2 separate regions of the Homo sapiens genome follow, and region 2 is linked to region 1. Evidence: fine-mapped expression QTL. Tissue or cell type: transverse colon. Region 1 holds a variant in brackets; the other region holds the start of a gene. All regions are shown on one strand. Distances are from middle to middle.

What was found. PIP is the estimated chance that this variant, and not a neighbour inherited with it, causes the effect.
Region 2: VN1R1 starts here. The variant in region 1 is fine-mapped to the expression of VN1R1 in transverse colon (GTEx, PIP above 0.99).

What each region holds. Positions count from the first base shown.
Region 1 is chr19:57,484,691-57,492,796 of GRCh38, forward strand. ZNF419 (zinc finger protein 419) reads left to right here and starts at 3,060. Exons shown (of 5, transcript NM_024691.4): 1 at 3,060-3,293; 2 at 5,457-5,495; 3 at 6,781-6,907; 4 at 7,423-7,521. The coding sequence starts at 3,261. RefSeq lists an enhancer at 2,848-3,348. The variant C/T (reference allele first, on the strand shown) is at 3,754.
Region 2 is chr19:57,453,290-57,461,395 of GRCh38, forward strand. It overlaps VN1R1 (vomeronasal 1 receptor 1), which reads right to left and starts at 3,851. Exons shown (of 1, transcript NM_020633.4): 1 at 1,501-3,851. The coding sequence starts at 3,197. The coding sequence ends at 2,136. It also overlaps the pseudogene VN1R107P.

The DNA of each region.
Region 1 (8,106 bases):
GTTTCCAGGTAGAATGTGGACTTGGCAAATTCTACAAAACCAGACCAATATTTTCAAGGCTTGACCTGGGAGGAGAGAATGGTGTATTTGGGTGGTATGAGCAGAGGAAAAAACTTTTTCTCAGTATTTTCAGTCATTTTCTGGTGAGTCAGTGTTCAGCAGAGCAAGGACATCCAGGTAAGTCTCAAAGATGTGGTATCTATGGAAGAGTAGATGATTGTAGTGGTTAGGAATAGCTGTACTCTTGAGTAGTTGGTGATCGTGGTTCCTCAGTTCCACTGGAGCTTCCGAAGAGTTTATAATCACCAAGCCAACATCTGCTGGGATGGTGTCTTTGAGCATAAGACTATGTTTGGGCAATAACAGGACATAGGGCTGCTTACCTGTTGTAGAGCAGAACTGCTCTTCTGAAATATTAGTCTCCTTCCTCGTTGAGGAAATGGTTATATTTTCCCATCCTGTGGCCTCATCTCCCTGCCTACTTTTCCTTATAAGGATAGTTCAGATGGGTTAGTCTTGGCTCTCTAGCTGAGGCGACCAGACTTCAAGTGTCTGAGGACCAGGTAGCCATCTCCATGGAAGTCCAGAGTTTCCAGAGCTGCTGGGTGGTGACTTCTTCCGTTAAGCTCTAACCTTGGGGAGGGCAGGAGATGTCATCAAAATTTGTTTAGTTGGTTACAGCCCTCAGCCTTCCCTCATTCCCTGCAGCTGCTCATGTGTTGAGGGTTGACTTGTGATTAGACCCTGAGGTGCATCTGCTTTTCATGCCATCTTGGATGGGTTAGACTTCCCAAACACAGAGGAATGTGCTTGCTAGCCCTGAAGGAGATATGGCCAAAGGTAGAGTCTTGGACTCAAACTTTGATGTTCACACTCCTTATAGACATGTAAATATTCCTAAAGGTTGGAAATAAAAATAGATTCCAGAAGTTAGAGAGAAAACATATAGACCCGGCATATGTTGCTTTTAAAAAATAAAATAGCTTCATGGGATTTTTTTGTGAATTCAATGAGATATAAGTGAATTTCTTATGTAGATAATGATTTTACCTAAACCAAATAATTAGATAGTCTACTTGGTCCTCACCAGTCATGTTATTTGCAATTCTACATATGAGCCTGCTTTAGTGGGTTGTCTCTTCCTGTGATAAAATTAAAATGTCTACATATACTCTTTATTTCAAAACTATCACACAATTCACTACAACTTTCAAAAGAGGTATAGTTTGTTTTTTAATTAAAACCACATCTGTGAAACAACCAGTAGTGATAAAACATAGTTTCTTTCTTTTTTTTTTTAATTTATTTTTTTGAGACAGAGTCTTGCTCTGTCACCCAGGCCGGAGTGCAGTGGCACAGTCTCAGCTCACTGCAACCTCTCCCTCCTAGGTTCAAGTGATCTTCTGCCTCAGCCTCCTGAGTAGCTGGGATCACAGTCACCTGCCCCCACGCCTGGCTAAAAAATATAGTTCCTAGGCATCCTTTCTTTTCACATCACCTCACATGCCTGATACACCCCATTAAGCTAACATTTGCATGACATTTTTGTTAATCATTTTGATAATCATTCTATAAATGTCTTTATAGTTTTACTACATACATATATTTTCCTAAATGATATACTGTTTCTTATTTCCAGATTCTGAATTTTCTATACATTTTACACTGTATGGGTGACTAGATTCTATAATATGTTTTTTAGGTTTGTCCACAAAGGTTCCTGTCATGATGGTAAGCTAATTTCCATAATCTATTAGATGATTAATCCAGAATCTGCTCTTCTAATAGATGTTCTCAAGGAAGTGAAACATTTATTCCTGTGCTTGGTTTCAGAAGGAGGATATTATTTACATATTGTCCCACTCCTGTCATGGACTCATCTCTCCTCACTCTCCTCCTCCCCTCCCTTCCATATGCCACATAATGGTCTAACTGAAATAACTAATGCCATAGCTGCCATGGAAGGGGTAAAGAGCTTGTGTCTCTCTCTATTCTACCATGTTCTCAATCCCAATATTGACTCCCCTCCTCCTTTTCAGAGTCAAGTAGTACTGAACACCCAGTTCCAGAAAGCTCCAAGAAGGAGGGAGGGCTTCATTTTCTCTTGTCCTCATAAGTCACTCCAATGCTGTGTTGAAATTGATCATTATTCAGCCAACAGATGGAAGGGGCAGGAAAAGAAGTAGGGAAATTAGATTGACACGAGGGGACTAGATTCAATGGGAATGGATGTAGTGGGACTACACATAATAAAGGGTTGACATCTTTTTTTTATCAATAGTTGTGTGTTGTAAACAACAGTCTAGCATTCTACCCACCTGTGAGGAACTGGCTTTATATTTGGAAATGGAAGAGCAGTGGGAACATGGAGCATAAAGGGATGAAGGAGAGAAATGGAGGGGGAGTTGCCTCATGGGTTTGCCGCCTATTGTTGTGCCTGTACACCAATGTTGGGTCTTTGAGGAAGGAAGGAGCACAAATGAGCATGGGATAAAGGAGGAAAGTAAATCCTTGGGCTCCCATACTCTCTCATCACCTACATCCAGAATTCAGAGCCTTTTCTTATTGTCATACATCAGGCATTGCTTGGCCACCGTTAATTTTAATATTGGGTGTCCTTTTGTCAAAGGAAATTTGGGGATCTATACGTGGCTCTTCCCAGAGAAACCTCTTTACTGTGGCCCTGAAGATCCTCTTCAATTCCTTCAAAAGAAGGAAAGATTGGGGTATCAGCTGCAGGAAACTGAAATCCAGGCCCATCTCCAAAAACAGCAGTTTCTGGATGAGTCCGAGAGAAGTTCTCAACCCTAATTTCTCCTCCATCTCCTATTCCGTTATCTCCATCTCCATCATCATCTCCATCTCCGTCTCCATCTCCATCATCATCTATCATCTCCAATCTCCATCTCCGAAGTTATGCCCACTTCCTGGAAGTTTGGAGGCACGGGAACTACATTGCCCAAAAGGCGCAGCGCCGCGAGGCGGCGATCCCTGACCAATGAAAAGAGGTCTGCCCGAGCGTGCGACACGCAATGGGCGGGACTTCCGGCGTCTCGTTTGGTATTCACTTTCGCGACTCAGGTGAACTAACCTGCGAGAAGCTGGTTGTGCGCTGAGGCGACCAGCGCCGGAAGGCACGGTGGCGACTCACGCTGTTCTCGCCGCTCAGAGGCGGGTCTGAGGCTCGGTGGCGGCGCCCAGGGTGGCCCGGGCCCTTTCCTCGGTCATTGTCTCCCCTCCAGCTCTACTCACAGGCTCCGATGGCGGCGGCCGCCCTGAGGGACCCCGCTCAGGTGAGCGCCGCGTCCTCCTGGCCTCCCCCGAATCCTAAAGCCCTGTGAGGGCCGCCTGCTCAGGTCCCCGGGTGCAGAACTGTGGGGCGTTCGTGCGCGGCGTCCCGTTTCTGACACGCAGTGTGATGGGGTGGCAATGGAGGGCAAGGGGCCCGGCTCGCAAAGATGTGAGGCGCATTCAGCGAGTCCCGAACCTGAGGCCTCCTGGTGTCTGTAGTGGGCAGCTTGGGAAGGGACGAGGCGCGTGTCGAGCGACAGCCCGAGCAGCTGCGCTTTCATCCTGAGGGGGCCACAGTGGCCGCGGAGGGCTGGAGACAGAAGAGTGACAAGATCTGTTTCTCAAAGTTTGCCAAAGGCCCTTCAAGTCAAAACAGACTGGGGTGGGGGTGAGGCGGGTGAAGACAGACCTGTGAGTAGGTAAATTCAGTAGACTAGTGGAGAGTCTACTGGGACTGGGCCA[C/T]AGAGGAGGGGAAGTGATCAGATCTTGGATGGATATCAAAAACTGAACAGACAGGAATTCCTGTTGCATCAGATGTGACTGAAAGAAAGGGAATGAAGAGCCATTCTGGATTTTTATTTGTATTTTTGTTTGTTTGTTCCTGAATATCAGGAAGGATGGAGATGGGTAAGGCTGTGCAGGGAGTAGGTTTTGGACATGGTAATCCTGAGATGACCCAGAGTGGAGGTGTCGTGTCCACATGGGCAGCTTGCCCACTCACATCTGGAAGTTTGGGGAGGGATCTGGGCTGGAGATATGGTAGATATGGGCTGGTTGGGTAGAGGCCTGGACTAGGGTAAGTCCTGGGGCTCCTATTTAGGAGGGAGAATCTTAAGGTTCCCTTTCAGATGGGCCCTAAGGTGAGAGAAGGGAGAGATGGCCCTGTAGGACGGGGCTGCCTCTATAGCATGGAGTTTTGTGGTCAGAAGTGGTTCTGTCTGGTGTCTGCCGGAATGGAGGGTTATAGAGTATGAAGACCCAGGACTGCATGGAGACTGCAGTGTTGAGTAGTATATAGGTTTGCCACTCCAGGCTCAGCAGTTCCTCATGTACAGTCCGTATGGACAAAAGGAAACGTCAGCCAGGCTGCTGGAGCAGCCCCTTTGGTGCCTAAGTTTCCCTAGCCGTCAGCACAGGAGGGATGATCAACTGCTCCAGTAGAAGGGCTCTCAGCAGGATGGTCTTCAGGGGAGTATATAGCAGGCAGCCAGGTTGCCAAAAGGAATGGTATGTGCTCAGGTTTCTCAGACCCAGGTCCCAGTTTATTAACTTGTGAATTTATGAGGTAAGTATTTAAGCACTAATTGATCATAGTTCATATACACACAGGGGCAAATAAAACAACACGGATTTATTAAGTTAAACTGATGTAAGCACTTCATAATTGGTTGTAAAGTTAGTATACTGGAAAGTATTTGATTAAAATAAAGCACCTTAAGTATCACATTCTTAATTTAAAAGTAAGTTTAAGAAACCCATATTTTCTTTTTCTTTCTTTCTTTCTTTTTTTTTTTTTTTTTTTTTTGAGACAGAGTTTCGCTTTTGTTGCCCAGGCTAAACTGCAATGGTGCAATCTCTGCTCACTGCAACCTCTGCCTCCCTGGTTCAAGCGATTCCCCTGCCTCAGCCTCCTGAGTAGCTGGGATTACAGGCATGCACCACCACGCTCAGCTAATTTTTATATTTTTAGTAGAGACGAGGTTTCACCATGTTAGCCAGGCTGGTCTCAAACTCCTGACCTTAGACGATCTGCCCACCTCGGCCTCCCAAAGCATTGGGATTACAGGTGTGAGCCACTGCGCCTAGCCAGAAACCCACATTTTGAAAACCTACCAGTTTATTTGCGCTGAAAATGTTGACAGAAGCATTAATTATGTGTACAGTAAGAGTTGATACTTAGTCCTAGACACATAAGAATGAGTTTGATACAAACAATCGTCCTATTGAGTAAATACCATTATTATTGCCATGTTGCAGATGGCAACACCAAGGCACAGGGAAGTTGAGCACTTTTCCAAGGGCACACAACAGGTAAGAGGCATCACTAAGAACCAAAGCCCAGATTGTAGATAGTCAGGCACACCTGACTCCAGGCTAGACGAGTGGGCTTGGATGATCCTTTGGCAACATCACTGTCTGGTTCTCATAGTCTTGATTTTCCATAGGTTCCTGTGGCTGCAGACTTGCTTACAGACCATGAGGAGGTAAGTGGAGGATGTCTCAGGTCCTCACACTCCTGCACTCCTACCTACATGGTCTTCAGAATTATGGTGTCTTGAGGCTCCTTGCTGGCTATTCTCCCTACCCTTCCATTTGAGTTCCCTGGAAGATGGTCACACACAGTCAGGGCCCTGAGTCCAGACTATATATTATTTTTATTATTTTCTTTTAAGACAGAGTTTTGCTCTTGTTGCCCAGGCTGGAGTGCAAAGGCGCGATCTCGGCTCACTGCAACTTCTGGCTCCTGGGTTCAAGCAATTCTCCTGTCTGAGCCTCCCGAGTAGCTGGGATTACAGGCATGCGCCACCACACCAGCTAATTTTGGATTTTTGGTAGAGAGGTTTCTCCACGTTGGTTAGGTTGGTCTCAAACTCCTGACCTCAGATGATCCGCCCGCCTTGGCCTCCTAAAGTGCTGGGATTACAGGCGTGAGCCACCGTGCCCAACCCAGACTATGTATTCTATGGAGAGGTTCTCATTTCTGGCAACCAATGACAGGAGGTTTAGAAGGCATAGTGATCAACATTAGAAAATACATGGAGGTAAGGTTGAGCTGGGAATGCTTAGACAACCTCAGATCTCCATTATGTCTGGGGGAAGCATCAGCGGGTATAAGGCCAACATGAAGTGATTGGCTGAGGAGCTGAGCTGAGGTGTCCTGATATGTGTGCAATTCCAAGTAGCTAAAGATGAAGCAAGAAAAAGAGCCAAGGAGGGAGGCCTTCAAAGTGGGGCTGAGGATTGGCCCTGGCAGTCAGTGCCATTGGGGGTCTGGGATGGCACGGAGTTCTGATTGCATTTGGTAAGTGCCCTCTGGATGCCATGTGTAGACTGGCATGTGGTGACACTAGGGGAAGCACATGAGGTGATGTAGAGGGTAGTGGTTGTGGTACAAAGTATGTGCACATTCTAATAAGTGTAAACAGATGTCCCCAGGACCTTGTACTGGGGGCTTCAGGGAGAACACTGACACAAATTTGATTGTATTTGAGAAACACAGTCTAGGGGATCCAAGGTAAATTGTCTGGCAAGAGAAGAGTAGGACTCTGCATACCATGCCCAGAGCTGAGATGGACTTTATCTGCCTACCTGCCTATTGTTGCTCAGTGGGAGCATGAGGAGAGAGTGGGCATCAGTGGCTCTGGGGCAGGGTCTCTCCTCTGAGATGGGGATTAAGGAAGAGGGTGAGCAGGGGTGGATGTTTAGGCAGATGCCTAAATTTCCCAGTAAGGAGGCTGCAGATAAACTCTACTCTGTCCATCTTAGCAGGGCTATGTGACCTTTGAGGATGTGGCTGTCTACTTCTCCCAGGAGGAATGGAGATTGCTTGATGACGCTCAGAGGCTCCTCTACCGCAATGTGATGCTGGAGAACTTTACACTTCTGGCCTCTCTGGGTAAGGTTCTCACACCCCACCCCAGCATCCTGAGCTGGGCTCGGCTTTTCCTCCTTTTCCTAGGGAGAGGTCTGTTCTTCCCAAAGCTGAACTGTGGGCACTCATTCCTTCTCCAGTATCCTGAAGTAGCTATTGTAATAGGCCTGGGCTGTGTATACTACCACCTTCTCTCCCCAAGCTGCCCCACAGCTGTGCAGGAAAGGGTTTGGGGGTCAGGAGTCTTGCAGTCAGCTTGATGGATCTTATCCCTGGTGGCCTCTCTGTGGCCTGGTGACACTGTGCAGATCTGTGGTAGTTCTATTCCCCTACATTCTGCCTGTCTCCTCTAGCCAACATACCTGGGTGTCGGTCTGTGCCAGCAATTGAGTCACCAATGTGATTGCTGTTTGACTGTGTTGTTCCTGCAAGACCCTCCTCCAAGGTTCTTTCTGTACTATTTTGTTTTCTTTCCTGTGGTCCATGATGAGATAAGTCATTCTGGCTCAGTGCTGCCACTCACCTGTCGTTTTCCTTAGGACTTGCATCTTCCAAGACCCATGAAATAACCCAGCTGGAGTCATGGGAGGAGCCCTTCATGCCTGCTTGGGAAGTTGTGACTTCAGCCATACCGAGAGGTAGTTGGTGGGTGGAGCTCAGGGAGGTGTGAACTCAGGGATGGATTCATATCATACCAGTAGGCCCAGATATTTTGATACCAAGGCAAGGGGTTGTCGCTGATTTCTATCTTTTCTTCCTTAGTCACCCATTTATATCTATTCTGATGTTTGACCTAGGGCCATTCCCCACCTCTCTGTCCTCCATGTTTCACCCAGTCATCAGCAGAACCCTTCAGCAGTGGCTTTCACTGAATGTGTGGTGAGGTGGATGCTTATCCTTGCATAGTCCTTGAGCATCAGCTATTTGGTTGCAGTTGGTTTTTTCTGGACCTGGACATAACCTTCTGTGCCGTGTTCCTGTGTCTCCAGCAGCCAAAGTCCTGTGGAAAGCCATTTGCAGAGGATTGTGTTGGGGACACTGCCTCTCCTCCCTGTGCTATACCCCATCCTTGCATCCTTGGTGCTCATGAGGCCTCCCCAAATCCTTGAGCTGGCCAGATTCAGCACTGCACAGCAGGCCCTTCCCTGCTGAGAGCTAGCCCTCTTTATTTCTGCTAGCAGCCCCAGGCACTAATTACTGGGTGTGTTAGACACATCTGTGAG
Region 2 (8,106 bases), 31 kb before region 1:
GGCTGGAGTGCAATGGCACGATCTCAGCTCACCGCAACCTCCACCTTCTGGGTTCAAGCGATTCTCCTGCCTCAGCCTCCTGAGTAGCTAGGATTACAGGCATGCGCCACCACGCCTGGCTAATTTTGTATTTTTAGTAGAGACGGGGGTTTCTCCATGTTGGCCAGGCTGGTCTCGAACGCCTGACCTCAAGTGATCCACCTGCCTTGGCCTCCCAAAGTGTTGGGATTACAGGCGTGAGCCACCATGCCCGGCCTATAAATTTTCTAGTATCTTATACAAATGAAATCCTACATTACATTCATATGGAGCATTTTTTGATATTTATACATGTTAAGCGTATTCATTTTTTGTTGATGAAGAGTATTGCATTGAATATACCACAATTTATTAATCTATTAATAAATATTTTGATTGTTTCTAGTGTTGGACTAAAAAACTAACAAAGACCCATGAACATTCATATACAAGTGTTTATATGAATATATTTAGCAGAATTGCATTTGTTATACCTCCTTGTCCATGATGGTTATGGTGTATTTTAAAGATTAACCATTTTCATAGATGTGTTGTGGTCAGTGTGGTTTTTAAATTTGCATTTCTCTAATAATTAATGATGCTGAATAAGTTTTTATATGCTTATTTGTTATCTGTATATTTGGCCAAATTTCTAAATCTTTTCCCTTTTTTTAAAAAAAAATCTTATTTTTCTATTTTAATAGAGTTTTAATTTTAGAACATTTTAAGATGTACAGAGAAATTGCAAATATAGTACAGAGATATCTCATTTACAAGCACACCTAGTTGTTACTAATATATAGTCATATATTAGTATACAGCATTATTTACAATTAGTGAAACAGTTTTGATACATTATTAAACTAAAGTACATCTTTGATTGAGATTTCCTCAGTTTTTACCAAAATACATGTTCTGTTCCAGAATTCCACCTAGGATACCACATTGCATTTATTTTATTATTTTTTATTCTTTTATTTATTTTTTTTCATGTGTCTCTAAATGTAACCACATTACAGTTAGTACTCACATTTCTTTAGGCTTGTCTTGCTTATGAGAATACTCATTTATTTTGATATTGATTTTTAATTTTTTTTTTTTTAGATAGTCTTGCTCTATTGTCCAGGCTGGAGTGCAGAAGCACTTTCTTTCTTTCTTTTTTTTTTTTTTTTTTGAGACGGCGTCTTGCCCTGTCTCCCAGGCTGGAGTGCAGTGGTGGGATCTCGACTCACTGCAACCTCTGCCTACTGGGTTCAAGGATTCTCCTGCCTCAGTCTCCTGAGTAGCTGGGATTACAGGCACCTGCCACCATGTCTGGCTAATTTTTGTATTTTTAATAGAGATGGGGTTTCACCATGTTGGCCAGGCTGGTCTTGAACTCCTGACTTCAAGTGATCTGCCCACCTCAGCCTCTCAAAGTGCTGGGGTTACCGGCGTGACCCACGGTGCCCAGCCACTTTTAGTTATTTTTATTTTTATTTTGAGTCTCCCTCCGTCACCCAAGCTGGTAAGTAATTCTCGTGCTTCACCCTCTGGAGTAGCTGGGACTACAGGTGTGTGCCACATGGTTGGCTAATTTTTGTATTTGAGACAGGGTTTTTGCCATGTTGGCCAGGCTGGTCTCGAACTCCTGGCCTCAAGTCATCTTGAGTGGATCACTTGAGGCATTTGGGAGTGCCTCAGCCTCCCAAAACGGTGGGATTACAGGCGTGAGCCACTGTGCCCGGCCTGCACATGTCTTTCTTACATGTGGACTCTCCAGGGGATTTATGCTGTTCAAGAAGCACCTGAATCAAACTGTGCTTTAAAAATATTTTTAAAACATTCCATGATTCTTCATAGTACAAAAATGAGAAATCTCCCCTAAATCTCTAAAGAATTCCCTTTTTAAACTTTTTGATTTCCTGAACTTGTCTGAAGGACTTAACACAGTTATATAGAGTGTTCTTTGTGTAACAGTATCCATGACTTTCATTTTTAGCTCTGGTATTAGATCTTCCTGGACAAGAGCATTACTGGCCATGTGTATGTTGCTATCACAAATAACTAGTAGTTAATATTTCCTAAATCTTAGCAAGAGTTATGATAAATAGCTGAATTCCATGAAGAGAAAAGACTCATGGCATGACAACCAGATTAGGAAAGAGTGTTTTCCTTGTCCTGCAGGCAAAACAGAACTGAGAGATATGAGTATCACTCATGATGAGGACAAAAGGGCTGCGTGCTGGGAAACATGAGGCGACCAACACAGAGTTGGTCACTATCCACTGGCCTGGGTTTGCAACTACAGTTGTCCAAATTGTCAGAAAACTATGGACTGAATAGAAAACAAAAAAGGAGCTCACCAGGACCATGATGGTGTGTGTGGCTCTGGCTTCCTGGGAAGGTCTGCAGGAGAGTCTGTTGCTGTGATTGTGTTGGACTTGCTGCTTGTGTCTGTAGAGGAAGAAGACCATGGAGCCACTGGCCCAGACCATGAAGCCCAAACTCATAAAATCAGGGGAAAAATATAAGACTGCATGTAATGAGCTAAATCTCTTTGATGCTTTGTAAGAACAGTATCCATAATTGTTTTTTGCACTACTGTTTTTGCTATTCAGTGGGCCATTCACTAATAGAAGAACAGATGCATTCATCAAGACATGGGGGGCCCAGCAGAGGAGACAACAGAAGTCAATAAACCTTGGGGATCTAATCTTGATCTCCATCCACCTGCATATACTGGGGTTGAGCTTAATGGCTTGGAATCCATTGAGAAGGCAGATGGTGCTGAGGGAAACTCTTGTGCCCACCCTGTGATAATAAAAGACAAACTTACATCCAGTGTCATTCAGCAAATATTTCAATCCAAAAGCTGCCATTGTCTGAGGTATCCCTTTAAAGAAAAGGACCATGGAGTTAGCCAAGGCCAGTTGGCTGAGAATCAAGTCCGTGGGTCTCAGCTTGTGTCCAGTGAACAAAATTAAGTTATAAAAACAAAGGAGAAAGGAATTTCCCAGGATCCCAACTCCAGTCTGAATGAGGAAGCTAATCCCTGATTTTACTTTTCCAAAAGCCATTTCATCAAAATCTAGGGGATGTTGATTTTCATTGAGGTCTGAAGAATCAGTAGAATAAAAAAGCAGAAAGAAGTATCTTGTCATCAGTGGAGACAGAAGTTTTAATGTGTCTCCAACCATATTTTCTCATCTTAAACAGAAATTAAGATTGTCCCTGTTCGTGCAAAGGCAATTGCTTGTGTGTCCAACTGCAGAGAAGCAGGTGAATGAATGAGGGCTCAACCGCACAACAGATCCACAAATCAAACCTATAAAACTCAGGGCTTACACACATGCAACAAGTAAATACAAGCAAAACTAGGGAAATATATAAAAACAGAACACAGAAGAGTCAATATCATTAGAGTGATATTATACTATAGTTTGCAAAATGTAATCATGACGGAACCCTGGGTAATATGGACAGGGCTTTTTCTGTATTATTTCTTATGACTGCTTGTGAGTCTACACTTATTTCAATAAAACCTTCAATTAAGTAGCCTGGAGATATGAAAAGCAAAAATAATACACCATAAAACCTTTTCCACACTAATATTTTAGTAAACACCATTGTTATTGATGCATTGAAACAAATTTTAGGCCGGGTGCAGTGGCTCACACCTGTAATTCCAGCACTTCGGGAGGCCAAGATGGAGACCATCCTGGCCAACATGGTGAAACCCTGTCTCTACTAATAATACAAAATACTAATAATACAAAAATTAGCCGGGCATGGCGGCGCGTGCTAGTCCCAGCTACTCGGGAGGCTGAGGCAGGAGAATCGCTTGAACCTGGGAGGCAGAGGTTGCAGTGAGCTGAAATCAAACCATTGCCCTCCAGCCTGGGCGACAGAGCGAGACTCTGTCTCAAAAAAAAAAAAAAAAGAAATTAAAAAAACGCTACAATACAATTGGTAACAAGGCCTTCAGCACAGTACAAATGCTAACTTGAAGAATTTTTAAAAACTATAATTTTTGGAACAATCAACATTGCATCATGGTATATTTTATTTTAAGCACATATATTTCTGTTATTTTCCACCGGACAGGTCTAGAGATTGTGAATTGACTCCGTAGAAATAACCATGACCACCTTGAGCCCACACATTTTTATCTCAATGCCATTTCTCACAAGTAAATGCAAAAGATCCTGAAAATAAATACTAATCCCAGAAACACCTAAGATATCCTTAAAACTTGTTAAATAGGAAATTCAATATGTTCCAGAAAGCTTGGGTTTATTTTTAGGGAAAGATAATTCAATTGGGAGGGAATTTCATTGCACAATATTCATATATATCAATCACAAAAGAAATAGTAACTGCGGCCAGGCACGGTGGCTCACGCTTGTAATCTCAGCACTTTGGGAGGCTGAGGCGGGTGGATTACAAGGTCAGGAGATGGAGACCATCCTGGCCAACATGGTGAAACCCCGTCTCTACTAAAAATACAAAAATTAGCTGGGTGTTGTGGTGCGTGCCTGTAGTCCCAGCTACTCGGGAGGCTGAAGCCTCCTGGGTTCACGCCATTCTCCTGCCTCAGCCTCCTGAGTAGCTGGGACTACAGGCGCCCACCACCACGCCCGGCTAGTGTGTGTGTGTGTGTGTGTGTGTGTGTGTGTGTGTTTAGTAGAGACGGGGTTGCACCGTGTTAGCCAGGATGGTCTCGATCTCCTGACCTCGTGATCCGCCCGCCTCGGCCTCCCAAAGTGCTGGGATTACAGGGATGAGCCACCTCGCCCGGCCATAATTTAGATTCTTTTGGTGTCTCTATGGAATTGCTATCATCAGGGAAAATTATGAGGTATTTTCTCCCATGAATAACTACATCTCTTTAGGGGTGGAGCAATCAATAACACAGCAGTATCAAGATTCTCAGGCGAGAGGTGGCTCACGCCTGTAATCCCAGCAGTTTGGGAGGCCGAGGCTGGTGGATCAGCTGAGGTCGGGAGTTCGAGACCAGCCTGACCAACAGGGAGAAACCCCGTCTCTACTAAAAATACAAAAATTAGTCAGAGGTGGTGGCGCATGCCTGTAATCCCAGCTACTCGGGAGGCTGAGGCAGGAGAATCGTTTGAACCCCAGAGGCGGAGGTTGCAGTGAGCCGAGATCATGCCATTGCACTCCAGCCTGAGCAACAAGAGTGAAACTCGGTCTCAAAAAAAAAAAAAAAAAACTCAGGCTCTGAGGTATGAAAACCTTTTAGATTCCCACAAACCACTTGTTGACAAATGTTTTTCCTATTTATATGAACTCATCATTTATTTTCAAGATAGTTCCTGATTCTTTGCTTTAATCTCTTATTTTGCTCCATTGTCCTAGTTGTATAATTTATTTCCAATATGCATTTGGTTTCCTATTTTTTCAGCTTCTCCTTATAAAGTACCATTTTTACTATGACTATTTTGAAAGCTTCTTGTATGTATAAAGTTAGTGTGATTATTGACTTTAACATACCACCTCCTTCTCCTCCTAGCCTCAGAAAGAAGTGTTGGTAACTGGTGAGAATTTTCAGACAGATTTTCCTTTTTTTTTTTAATTTAATTTAATTTTTTTTTCTTTCTTTGCTTTCTTTTTTTTTTTTTTTTGAGACAGAGTCTCACTCTGTTGCCCAGGCTAGAGTGCAGTGGCGCTATCTCGGCTCACTGCAAACTCCACCTCCCACGTTCAAGCGATTCACCTGCCTCAGCCTCCTGAGTATCTGGGATTACAGGCGCCTGCCACTGCGCCTGGCTAAATTTTTTTTGTATTTTTAGTAGAGATGGGGTTTCACCATGTTGGCCCGGCTGGTCTCGAATTCCTGACCTCGTGATCCACCCACCTTGGCCTCCCAAAGTGCTGGGATTACAGGCGTGAGCCACCGCGCCAATTTAATTTAATTTTTTAAAGTTCCAGGATACAGGTGCCGGATGTGTAGGTTTGTTACATAGGTAAACGTGTGCCATGGTGGTTTGCTGCACCTATCAACCCGTCACCTAGGTATTAAGCTCAGCATGCGTTAGCTATTTATCCTGATGTGCTCCATCCCCCGACCCCTTTGACATATTCCAGTGTGTGTTGTTCCCCTCCCTGTCTCCATGTGTTCTCATCGCTCAACTCTCACTTATAAGTGAGAACATTTGGTGTTTGGTTTTCTGTTTCTGTGTTAGTTTTCTGAGGATAATGGCTTCCAGCTCCATCCATATCCCTGCAAAGGACGTGATCTCATTCTTTTTATGGCTGCATAGTATTCCATGGTGTATATGTACCACATTTTCTTTATCACTGATGGGCATTTGGGTTGATTCCATTTCTTTGCTATTGTGAATAGTGCTGCAATGAACATATACATGCATGTATCCTTATAACAGAATGATAATAATAGAATGATTTATATTCCTTTGGATATATACACAGTAATGGGATTGCTGGGTCAAATGGTATTTCTGGTTTTAGGTCTTTGAGGAATTGCTACACTGTCTTCCACAATGGTTGAACTAATTTACCTTCCCACCAACAGTGGAAAAGCATTCCTATTTCTCCACCACCTTGCCAGCATCTGTTGTTTCTTGACGTTTTAATAACAGCCCACTGAACAGCAAAAACCTTAGTGTGAAAAACAATTATGGAGTCTGCTCCTGGGCAATGCAAGAAATATTTGGCACCTTATATACAATTATATACTTTTCTCCTGACTTTTTGAGTTTTGGCTTCTTGGTGTGGGTCAGTGGCTCCATAGTCTTTGTCCTATACAGACACAAGCAGCAAGTCCAACACATTTGTAGCAAGAGACTCTCCTCAAATCAGTATAAGTAAAATTAGGAAAATATTAAGATGATAGTGAGGGCCGGGTGTGGTGGCTCATGCCTGTAATCTCAGCACTTTGGGAGGCCGATGCAGGCGGATCACGAGGTCAGGAGATAGAGACCATCCTGGCTAACACGGTGAAACCCCGTCTCTACTAAAAATACAAAAAATTAGCCGGACATTGTGGCGGGCACCTGTAGTCCCAGCTACTCGGGAGGCTGAGGCAGGAGAATGGCATGAACCCAGGAGGTGGAGCTTGCAGTGAGCCGAGATCGCGCCACTGCACTCCAGCCTGGGCGACAGAGTGAGACTCCATCTCAAAAAAAAAAAAAAAAGATGATAGTGAATATATCAAAATCAATATCATCATTGTGATATTATACTGTAATTGCCAAATGTAACCATGGGTGGAAACTGGGCCATGTGTAGAGGCTCTCTGAGTTATTTTTTAAACTGCTTGTGAGTCTAAAATTAAATTAAAATTATTGTTAATAAAATGGTCAGTAAAAATGCTCAGGAATATGTAAGGCAAAAATAAGGCATTATAAAACCTTGTCCGTCATTATGTTTTAATACACATCTCCTCACATACTTATCATTTCTTTCTGATGAGAACATTTAAAATCTACTCTTTTGGCAATTTTGGAATAGACATTAACAATAGTCACCACGCCGTGCAACAGATCACTAGAACACATTCCTTGTGTCTAACTGAAACTTCGTATGCTTTCACAAAAACCTCCCGTTTTTCAGTTTGCCCTCTATCTCTTTAGCCTCTGGTAACCACCATTCTACTCTCTACTTTTATAAACTCAACTTGCCTAAATTCTGCATACAAGTGAGACCATGACCATGTGGTGTTGGTCTTTTTGGACTTTCTTTGAATGTGTCCTGCCTTCAGAGATGTGTTGACCTACAAGAAAAATGTATTGAAGCATACCACTATAATGTGTGCACATTTCTGAATGTCATGTATAAGATACCTATTTTTGCCACTCCTATTCAGTATAGTACTAGAGGTCCTAGCCAGAGAAATCAGGCAAGAAAAATACCTAGCTAACTAAATAAAAGATATTCGGGTGAGAAAATATAAAGTAAAATTGTTTTTCTTTGTTGTAATATGATCTTATAAACTCTTAGAACTGGGGAACAAATTTAATATAGTTGTAAGACACAAAATCAATATACAAAAATCAGTAGCATTGCGGTACACCAATAATGAAATAGCCAAAACAGAAATCAAGAAGGCAATTCCATTTGCAATAG